Linked DNA regions of Homo sapiens: region 1 is linked to region 2. The links come from fine-mapping of genetic effects on gene expression. A gene starts in region 2. The other region holds a variant in brackets. All regions are shown on one strand. Distances are between the middles of the regions.

What was found. PIP is the estimated chance that this variant, and not a neighbour inherited with it, causes the effect.
Region 1: its variant is fine-mapped to the expression of PCNP in whole blood (INTERVAL, PIP 0.92).

The regions. Positions count from the first base shown.
Region 1 is chr3:101,620,807-101,626,185 of GRCh38, forward strand. No RefSeq gene overlaps it. Among named protein-coding and RNA genes, the nearest start is that of PCNP, 49 kb to the left of the region's middle. The variant G/A (reference allele first, on the strand shown) is at 2,305.
Region 2 is chr3:101,571,663-101,577,007 of GRCh38, forward strand. PCNP (PEST proteolytic signal containing nuclear protein) reads left to right here and starts at 2,518. Exons shown (of 5, transcript NM_020357.3): 1 at 2,518-2,617. The coding sequence starts at 2,554. It also overlaps the pseudogene RPS18P5. RefSeq lists enhancers at 1,729-2,674, 2,118-2,387, 2,488-2,617, 2,698-2,857, 2,878-3,037.

The sequences.
Region 1 (5,379 bases), 49 kb after region 2:
GAGGCAGGTGGTCACGAGGTCAGGAGATCGAGACCATCCTGGCCAACATGGTGAAACCCCATCTCTACTAAAAATACAAAAAATTAGCTGGGTGTGGTGACTCGTGCCTGTAATCCCAGCTACTCGGGAGGCTGAGGCAGGAGAATCACTTGAACTAGGGAGTTGGAGGTTGCAGTGAGCCAAGGTTGTGCCACTGCACTCCAGCCTGGCAACAGAGCAAGACTCTGTCAAATGAAAAAAAAAAAAAAAAAAAAAAGCTAATACATAGGTCAGAAAGAAATTTTTTTTCTTTAGATGAATCAAGTATCCTGGCAAAGCCATCAAGGAATTTTTCATCCCTGAAATTATGACTTTTATTTCTAGCATTTCCATTGAATACTTTCTTATAGTTTCCATTGTTCTGCAGAAAATGTCCATGTGCTCAAGTAGGCTGGAAACCTTTTACACTGGATCCTTTAACATATTAACCATAATTATTCTAAAGTCCTGGTCAGAGTTTTTCAGTAACTGGTTCATCTCTCTGTCTGGTTCTATTAACTTCTTTGTCTCAGAATCAAAATTATTACTTTCTTTTTATTTTTTTGTTTAAATTAGAGATGGAGTCTTGCTATGTTGACCAGGCTGATCTTGAACTCCCGGCCTTGAGTTATCCACCCATCTCAGCCTCCCAAAGTGCAGGGATTACAGGCATTAGCCTTCATGCCCAGCCATTATTATTTCTTTCTTTCCAACTTTTATTTTAGGCTCAGGGGGTACATGTCCCGGTTTGTTACACAGATAAATTGCAGTCATGGAGGTTCAGTGTACAGATTATTTCATCACTCAGGTAATGAGTATAGTACTCGATAGGTAGTTTTTCTGTGAGTTTTTTGTTTGTTTGTTTTTGTTTTTTTTTTGAGATGGAGTCGTTTTCTGTCACCCAGGCTGGAGTGCAATGGCACAATCTTGGCTCACTGCAACCACCCCCTCCTGAGTTCAAGCGATTCTCCTGCCTCAGTTTCCCAAGTAGCTGGGATTACAGGCACCCACTACCACGCCCAGCTAATTTTTGTATTTTTAGTAGAGGTGAAGTTTCACCATGTTGGCCAGGCTGGTCTCGAACTCCTGACCTCAGGTGATCCACCCACCCCAGCCTCCCAAAGTGCTGGGATTACAGGCATGAGCCACTACGCCAGGCCTGATAGGTAGTTTTTTAATCCTCACCCTCTTCCCAACCTCCACCCTCAAGTAGGCCTCGGTGTTACTGTCCCCTCCTTGGTGTCCATGTGTACTCAATATTTAGGTCCCACTTATAAGTGAGAACATGCGATATTTGGTTTTCTGTTCCTGTGTTAATTCGCTGGGGATAATGGCCTCCAGTTCCATCTGTATTGCTGCAAAGGCCATGATTTTGTTCTTTTTTACAGCTGCATAGTGTTCCATGGTGTATATGTACGACATTTTATTTTATTTTTACTCAGGATCTCACTCTGTCACCCAGACTGGAGTGCATTGGTGAGATCACGGCTCACTGCAGCCTCAACCTCCCAGTTTCAAGTGATCCTCCCACCTCAGCCTCCCTAGTAACTAGGACCACAGGTGTGCACCATCATGCCTACTTAATTTTAATTTTTTTTTGTAAAGACAGGGTCCCACTATATTGCCCAGGCTGGTCTCAAACTCCTGGCCTCAAACGATCCTCCTGCTTTAGCCTCTCAAAGTGTTGGGATTATAGGCATAAGCCACCATGCCCAGATGACATTTTCTTTATCCAGTCCGTCATTGATGGGCATCTAGGTTGATTTCACGTCTTTGCTATTGTGAATAGTGCTGCAATGAACATACGTGTACATGCATCTCTATGGTTGAATGATTTATGTTTTTTGGGTGTATACTCAGTAATAGGATTGCTGGATCAAATGGTAGTTTTGATCCAGAACTGTTTTAAGTTCTTTGAGAAATCTCTAAACTGCTTTCCACAGTGGCTGAACTAATTTACATTTCCACCAGCATTGTATAAGCATTCCCTTTTCTCTGCAGCCTCTTGCCAGCGTGTTATTTTTTGATTTTTTTTTTTTTTACTTTTATTTTAGGTTCAGGGCTACATGTCATGTGCAGATTTGTCATCCTTTTTTTTTTTTTTTTTTTTGAGACAAGGTCTCATCACTCTGTCGCCCAGGCTGGAATGCAGTGGTGCAATCACAGCTCGCTTCTGCCTTGACTTCCTGGACTCAGGTAATCCTTCCACCTCAGCCTCCTGAGTTGCAGGGCCTACAGGTGCATGCCACCATGCTCAGCTAATTTTTGTATTTTTTGTAGGGACAA[G/A]GTTTCACCATGTTGCCCAGGCTGGTCTTGAAGTCCTAGGCTCAAGCAATTCACCTGCCTTGGCCTCCTAAAGTTCTGGGATTTCCTACCCGAAGGCAGGAAATTCCTTGTTTGGCTAGGTCTGGGCCTTTTATGGACTCAGAATGTGGAGTGCAAGCTGATTGGCATGAGCCACTGTGCCTGGCCTAGACTTTTTAATAATAGTCATTGTGACAGGTGTTGATGCAGTGCAGATGAGCCCCAAAATTGGGGCTTAGCCCAGGAGGGTGTGTGGCTTTGCCCAGGAAAGAATTCAAGGGTGAGCTGGTGGTGGTGGTAACTTTTATTGAAGTGGCAGTGGACAGCAGCAGCAGAGGTTCTGCTCCTTGTGGAGCAGGGCTACCCCACAGACGGTGTGCCCAGAGGAACAGCTCCGAGGCAGTTCTGCAGTCATATTTATAACCAAATTTTAAATCTAATTTTATTTTATTTAATTTTTAATTTTTTAAATTTTATAAAATAGAGACAGGGTCTAGCTGTGTTGACCAGGCTGGTCTTGAATTCCTGGCCTCAAGTGATCCTCCTGCCTGGGCCTCCAGAAGTGCAGAGATTACAGGTGTAAGCCACCATGCCCAGACTTTACCCACTTTTAATTATATGGAAATTAAGGGGCAGATTATGCAGACATTTTTAGAAAAGGGGTGGCAACTTCCAGGTCACAGAGTCATTGCCATGCAAATGAGTGGTAACTTCTGGGTGTTGCCATGGCAATGGTAAACTGACATGGCACACTTGTGGGCATGTCTTATGGAAAGCTGCTTCCTCCCAGCCCCTGTTTTAGTTAGTCCTCAATTTGTTCTGGTGTCTGAGCCTCACCTCTGGAGTCAAGTCCCGCCTCCTACCTCAGTGTGATATAGAATCTCATTGTGGTTTTCAGATATCCTTAATATGTTTATGTATTTTATCTTCTGTTTAGGCAGCCAATCCTTATTGCCTCCAATCCTTATACTTCCCACATGGATACTCCCAACTTGATCTCTGCCACTCCAATCCAGACCAGCCCTCTACATGAATGCTATGTTTTGACACCAATTGTCTGACACGAACTGGGTGTTGTATGATTTAGTTCTGCCACTACCTGGAGTTAATGCAGACTCCACAAATTGAGGGCTCTGTTCCACAAAACTGCTCCTGACTTCTGATGCCAGTGCAAGTCTTAGATATCCCAAAGCTACCTGTGCTTCTGACCACAGGTTTGGTAATTCACTAGCATGACTTACAGAATTCATTAAAAACACTACTTTTTTTTTTTTTAATTACGTGGGGTCATTATTTTGCCCAGTCTTCTCTCAAACTCTTGGGCTCAAACAATCCTCCCACCTCAGCCTAGTAGCTGGGATTACAGATGTGCACCACTGCACCAGGCTACAAAAGTATTGTACTGGCCAGGCGCAGTGGCTCATGTCTGTAATCCCAGCACTTTGGGAGGCCGTGGTGGGCGGATCACGAGGTCAGGAGATTGAAACCATCCTGGCTAACATGATGAAATTCCGTCTCTACTAAAAGTAAAAAAATTTGCCCGTAGTCCCAGCTGCTCAGGAGGGTGAGGCAGGAGAATCACTTGAATTCGGGAGGTGGAGGTTGCAGTGAGCTGAAATCGGGCCCCTGCACTCCAGCCTGGGTGACAGAGCGAGACTCCGTCTCAAAAAAAAAAAGAAAAAGTATTGTACTTAAAGTTTTATTATAAAGGATTCAGCTGAAGAACAGCCAAGTGAAAGAGATGCATAAGGCAAGGTGTGACAGGGAGGAACACAGAAGCTTCTGTCCTTGTGGAGTCACAGTGTGTCAGTACTGGCATGGGATTGGGGACCTCCGGCCAGTGACACCCACTCAGGTCTCACTCGGCCACCCTACCTGCTGCAGGAGATGGCCCACCCACTCAGCCCAGCCAGGCTGACTCTGACTTGCACTCCAGTTCCTGAGTTCTTGTCCTGTGCCCAAGAAGAATGAGGATGCTCTGACAATCAAAGAGTGAGCAAGGCAGGGAGTTTTACTGAGTGATGAAACAGGTTTCAGCAGAGAGGGAATGTGGGGGTGGTCCCCCTACCTGAAGGCAGGAAAGTCCCCCATGTGGCTGGGTCCAGGCCCTTTTATGGACTCAGAATGATGAGTGTGTGCTGATTGGTTTGTGAGTGTGCAAAAAAGTTTAAAGCGAAGACACTACTTAAAGGTGGCCATGACAGTGTAGAAAACCAATTAGGAAAAGGTAGGTATATGTAAAATAGGGGAAGGGTGGGGATCAATCAGAAGAAAGCATGCCAAATGGGAAGACAAGTTCTTAATCTGGTCCGAGAATTTAACTTGTAGCTTGGGGCTTTCAGGCTTTAAACTATCTTTGGCTTGGAGATGGAGTTTCACTGGGGACCCGCCCCTATCTGACTAGCCATTTGACTGCCTTTTGTCACTATCAGTACCTCATATGTTCACCAACCAGGAAGTTCTCCTCTGATCCTCTTTTTTCTTTTTTCTTTTTTTTTTTTGAGACAGAGTTTCACTCTTGTTGCCCAAGCTGGAGTGCAGTGGCATGATCTTGGCTCACCTCAACCTCTGCCTCCCAGGTTCAAGCAATTCTTCTGCCTCAGCCTCCTGAGTAGCTGGGATAACAGGTATGCACCACCATGCCTTGCTAATTTTGTATTTTTAGCAGAGACAGGGTTTCTCCATGTTGGTCAGGCTGGTCTCAAACTCCCAACCTCAGGTGATCCACCCGCCTCAGCCTCCCAAAGTGCTGGGATTACAGGCATGAGCCACTGCACCCGGCCTTGATCCTCTTTAAGAGTTTTTCTAGAGGTTTCCTTATGTGGCCACCTTTGATTTAATCTATGGTCATGATTGACCTCAATGTCCAGCCCCTACCTCCCCAGGAGGTCAGGGGGTGGGACTGAAATTTTCAATGTTTAGAAGGTTGGCTTTTCCTAAGATAAGCGCCCACTGTGAAACAATTAGGGGCCCTACCATGAGTCACCTGTTTGGCATAAACTCAGGTATGGCCAATGAGAGAAAGGGGCTCATTGTGAATAACAAAAGACAGTTGGA
Region 2 (5,345 bases):
CCTCCGGGGCTCAAGTGATCCTTCTATCTCAGCCTCCCTAGTAGCTGGGATTATGGGAGTGAGTCACCACGACTGGCCTTCGAATTATTATTGGTTCTCTAGTTTCACTTGGTTTACAAAGAGAATAATTTACAAGTGAATTTCTGCATTAATCTCTCCTAAAATCATTTACTACTCCTCTAAAATTGCCTGTAGCCCCCCCACCTCTCTCTCCCCTATGAAAAGTATTAAACTTCAACCATCTGACCCTTTTTTTAGTTTTCTTATTTTGTTGTATCATTCCCATGCTTATGCACATTAATTTTCTCTTGTTAACCTGTCTTTTATTAACAAGCATGTTGTCATGACTCTTTTGATGGGGAGGAAAGTGATCACCCCCTTTCCACCCCTTCATACTACACTACCTTTCCATTTCCTAACCCGTTTGTAGGAGGTTACTGAAGCTTGCATTAATTTCTTCAATAGATATTTATCCAGACTAGTATAATCCAGGTGCTGGGGAAACAGTGGTGAACAAGACAGGCACACCTCATGAAACTCACAGAACTGAAAGGTGAATGGATTACTATCTTCATCCTTTTTTTGTTTCGTTTTTTTCCTTTCATACCTAGTCCTGCACATGCATCCTTAACTTCTGCAGTGTGGTATATGGGAACTGGATCCGCTCCTAAATAGGTATGTGACTTCTCTGAGCTTTATCTTCTTCACTTAAAAATTACAAGCATCGGCCGGGCACGGTGGCTCACGCCTGTAATCCCAGCACTTAGGGAGGCTAAGGTGGGCGGATCACAAAGTCAGGAGTTCGAGACCAGCCTGGCCAACATAGTGAAACCCCGTCTCTACTAAAAATACAAACATTAGCCGGGTGTGGTGGCACGCGCCTGTTGTCCCAGCTACTCGAGAGGCTGAGGCAGGAGAATCGCTTGAACCCAGGAGGCGGAGGTTGCAGTGAGCCAAGACCATGCCATTGCACTCCAGCCTGGGTGACAGAATGAGAGACTCCATTCCACCCCCCATAAAAAATTACAAGCATCTGTAAATACATAATCTCAAATAAAAATCTTCGTGTATATCTCCATTTTTAAAATGATAGAAACGAGAGTCTCAATGATTACCTTGAAAAGATCACAAGGAAAATGAAACAAACATGAATTAAGTACCTGTAAGATAGTTTGCTGGTTACTTTTACATATATGATAAATGATGGATCAGGGACTTCAACCTAGATCACAAAATCACCACCACACTGCCCTGCTTCTGTCATGGGAAACACACTTTGATAATTTCTTCATTCTTTCTCCACTCCCTGGACTTGAAGCCCGAGAAGTAATCCATCCGCAAATATTGAACACTTTTTATATTCATATATGAAACGCACAGTACACAGTTTTTAAAAACTGGTCTCTGTTGTCAAGGAACTTTTGAGCCATTCAGAGAGACAACACTTAAAACACACACACACACACACACACACACAAACTGAGGGAAGTATGAAGTGACCAAATAATGGTATACAAAGATGATCTCATTTGATCCCTATTACCACTCTTTGAGGAGGTACTATTATTATTGCTCTTTTATAGAGAAGAAAAGGTAGCTCTGTAGGCAGTAAGCAAGTCTCAAGGTTACTCAAGCAGGAAAGGGCAAAACAGATTCAAATCCAAGTTCTGACTCCTAAGACTTTCTCTAACTATATATGGTAAGACAAACCCAGAAACTCCAGTTCCCTAAGCAAGTAATAGACCCCATTTGGCTAGGAGGGCTGGATAAATACTGAGAAAGGGGGAAGATGAAGCCGAAAAGGTAGGCTAGGGCCTAATGTAACTCACGGACTTCAGAATGCAGACTGTAGGAATCCACTAAAGGTTTCTTATTAAGGCAGAAATTACTGCAGTCTTAACTTGACATAGTAGTTTCTCAACTTGGTAGAAGCAGACTATACAAAAAGTAACTTTACAGTTGGCTACGTGACTTAGACAAATTACTCTCTCTGACCTCAACTCTTACAGGTAATTGAGAGGAGAATTCTATATTTGGACAATCGCCGTGATTAAACGAGTGTATGAAAGGCGTCTGAAGCTAGGGGGCGCTAGATAAACACTGATTTCCCCTTTAGGGAAAAAGAATGCAGGCTTTTTGTTTACATAGAGTTGGCAGGCATGCGTTATCCAGCAAGGCCGGAACGGAAGACACTCTCAGCCTCAGCTGCAACCACATCTGGGTATGCAGAAACCTTCTAAGATCCCAGCGTTTCCAGGGAGATGCTCCATTTCCCCTCACTTCTCCGGACCTGTCGCTAGACCATGAAGACCTGACTGCCCTCTAATAAAGTGCCTAGCCAGCACTCTTAGACCGCCCAACCTTCCCAGCTCTTCCTTCCGAGGCGGCTACTCGATGACATCACATCCACTTCCGCTTCCGAAGGCGGCCTCTTTTCATTCCTCGGGACCGCTCTAGGCTGCCACCACGCCGGCTGGCCCCAAAAACTCGATGGTTGTTGGGCGGGGTCGTGACGTCCTTGGCGTGGCTGCAGGGGAGGCCGCGGCGGGGAAAATGGCGGACGGGAAGGCGGGAGACGAGAAGCCTGAAAAGTCGCAGCGAGCTGGAGCCGCCGGAGGTGAACACAACCCCAGCGTCGTGGGCAGCGTGGGATGCTCCGGGCCTTTCTTTGAGCTCCCAGGGTGGGGGGAGTGGGGTGGGGCGAGAATGGGCGGATCTGGACCTCACCCGGCCAGGTGTTGGGCCCAGACCTGCCTCGGGCACGCCCGATGCGGCCCTCTGGGCTCCGGGCCTACATCGCCTCCTTGCCTGGGGAGAGCCGGCCACTGTTCGTCACCTCCTGGCCCCAGCGGAGGCCCTGATTCCGAGGAGAAGGGAGATGGGCGCCAGAAAGGGAGACCGAACTCGGGGTGGGACCAGGAGCGGCGGTGCAGGAGCCGCTACCGCCACACCGGAGACGCACATCACACAAAACACACACACCGGAGACGCTCATGAGACATAACATACACACAGTGCGAGCCACCGAGTAGTTGCCGCGGGAACTGGCCGCAGGCTGAGTTTCTGACGGTGCCGGCCTCTCAGTTACACGCAGGAGTTAATTACGCTTGCTGCTCCCTTTTCACTGAGGAGGTGGACAACTCCGGCCTGCTCTCTTTCCTTTACTTCCAAGTTTAATATTGACCCTGTGACAGGATGGGCCGAGGTGATGGAGGGGAAGAGGAATGCCTTTGCCTGCCCTCTGGTTTAAGCTGCGGGGTCTAGGGCTAAGGTTTGGTTGCTTTTCTTTGAAGTATCTCCCTTAGGCTGTTGCCAGCTGACCGCTTGCCAGATACTTAGGCGACTAAATAGTCTAGCGTGACTCTTCCTGTATTTTGTTACGACGTTAAACTCAGGTTACAGCTATCCTTATTCTGTCCATTCCACTCCCTAAATTCGGGTCTTGTGCGTGAAGGAAAAGAAACGTAATCTCTCCAGCTCCCTCTTTGCACATAACAAGACAAGTGACTTAACACGTGCGAGCTGTTTAAAATGTTTTTAGAACATTTTAAACATTATTCTCTATTCTGACCACCTTAGTTATCATTCCCGAAATTATTTAATATGAGAAAATAGAAACGATTAATAGCATATGAAGGCCACTAGTAGACCTACTAACATAATGTTTCATGTTAATTGCCTTGGGAACAAAAATTATTGAAAAGATTAAGTGTAATGTTAATTACTTTGGACCCAGGATTTCCTTTTTAAAAAACACGTACAATTCTGTTAGTTAAGCTGGAACTCCATCTCTCTCTTCCCTCCCCACCCCCTGTCTTTTTTTTTTTTTATAACTAGTAAAATACCTTATGAAAGAACAATTTAAATTTAAACCATCTACTACTTTCTCACTAGGGAATTTTTTTTCCCAAAAAAATTGTATTGGAAATTGTGGGATAAAATTACATAAAAGTTTAAAAGTAGTTTGAGGAAAAGCAAAAAATTTTAGACGTAGTTTGAGGAAAAGCCTAAAGAATCATGTGTTGATTTTAAGGCCATCTCGTTAACTGTCTTGACCGAGGGTAGCAGACGTGTTTAATGTGCTGTCAAAATGTACCTTGAGTGTCATTATAAATCCACTGTATAATTTACCTGCCATTCTTTCAGTTGAGGGTTATTAGTTCTATAGTATGAATATTGATGTTTCCATTTTAGCATGTGGGGAGAAGTAGTAGAGAATTACTTTGCTAATTGGTATCAGAAAAATTATTATGGTCTTTTTCTTGGTAACTTAGAGTAAGTAAATATCCCTTAACTTCTACATAATTTGTCTCCTTGCCGTTACAAGAAAGTAGTGCTGTTAAGTTTAAGCCATTTTTGAATGTCAGATATTTTTAATGAAATTGTGCATAGGAATCATAGTTAAAATATGTCATACCATGGATATTGCAAAATTGGTAATTTTGTGGCAGATAGTCACTTTTTTGAAAACACTGTCAAGTTTGTCTTAGGGGCTTAACTAGAGAATATTCTGAATTTTAATTCCTGTCGAGCAGTCTACTAAGTTGGAAGTATAAGTTTTTTTTTTTTATGAATGGTTTCCTTTTTTTTTTTTTTGAGATGGAGCTCTGTCGCCAGGCTGGAATGCAGTGGCGTGACCTGGGCGCACTGCAAACTCCGTCTCCCCGATTCAAGTGATTTTCCTGCCTCAGCCTCCCAAGTAGCTGGGACTACAGGCGCGGGCCACCACGCCCAGCTAATTTTTGTATTTTTATTTTTTATTTTTTTTATTTTTTATTTTTTTCATAGGTATATAAACTATTTATTAACAGACAAGGCCTACAGACTTATTTCTTCTTGGACACACCCACGGTGCGGCCACGGCGGCCAGTGGTCTTGGTGTGCTGGCCTCGGACACGAAGGCCCCAGAAGTGACGCAGCCCTCTATGGGCCCGAATCTTCTTCAGTCGCTCCAGGTCTTCACGGAGCTTGTTGTCCAGACCATTGGCTAGGACCTGGCTATATTTTCCATCCTTTACATCCTTCTGTCTGTTCAAGAACCAGTCTGGGATCTTGTACTGGCGTGGATTCTGCATAACGGTGATCACACGTTCCACCTCATCATCAGTGAGTTCTCCCGCCCTCTTGGTGAGGTCAGTGTCTGCTTTCCTCAACACCACATGAGCATATCTTCGGCCCACACCCTTAATGGCAGTGATGGCAAAGGCTATTTTCCGCTGCCCATCGATGTTGGTGTTGAGTACTCGCAAAATATGCTGGAACTTTTCAGGGATCACTAGCGACATGGCGGCAGCACAAGCGGCGGCGTGTAGGCCTCCTGTGGAGGAGCAATTTTTGTATTTTTA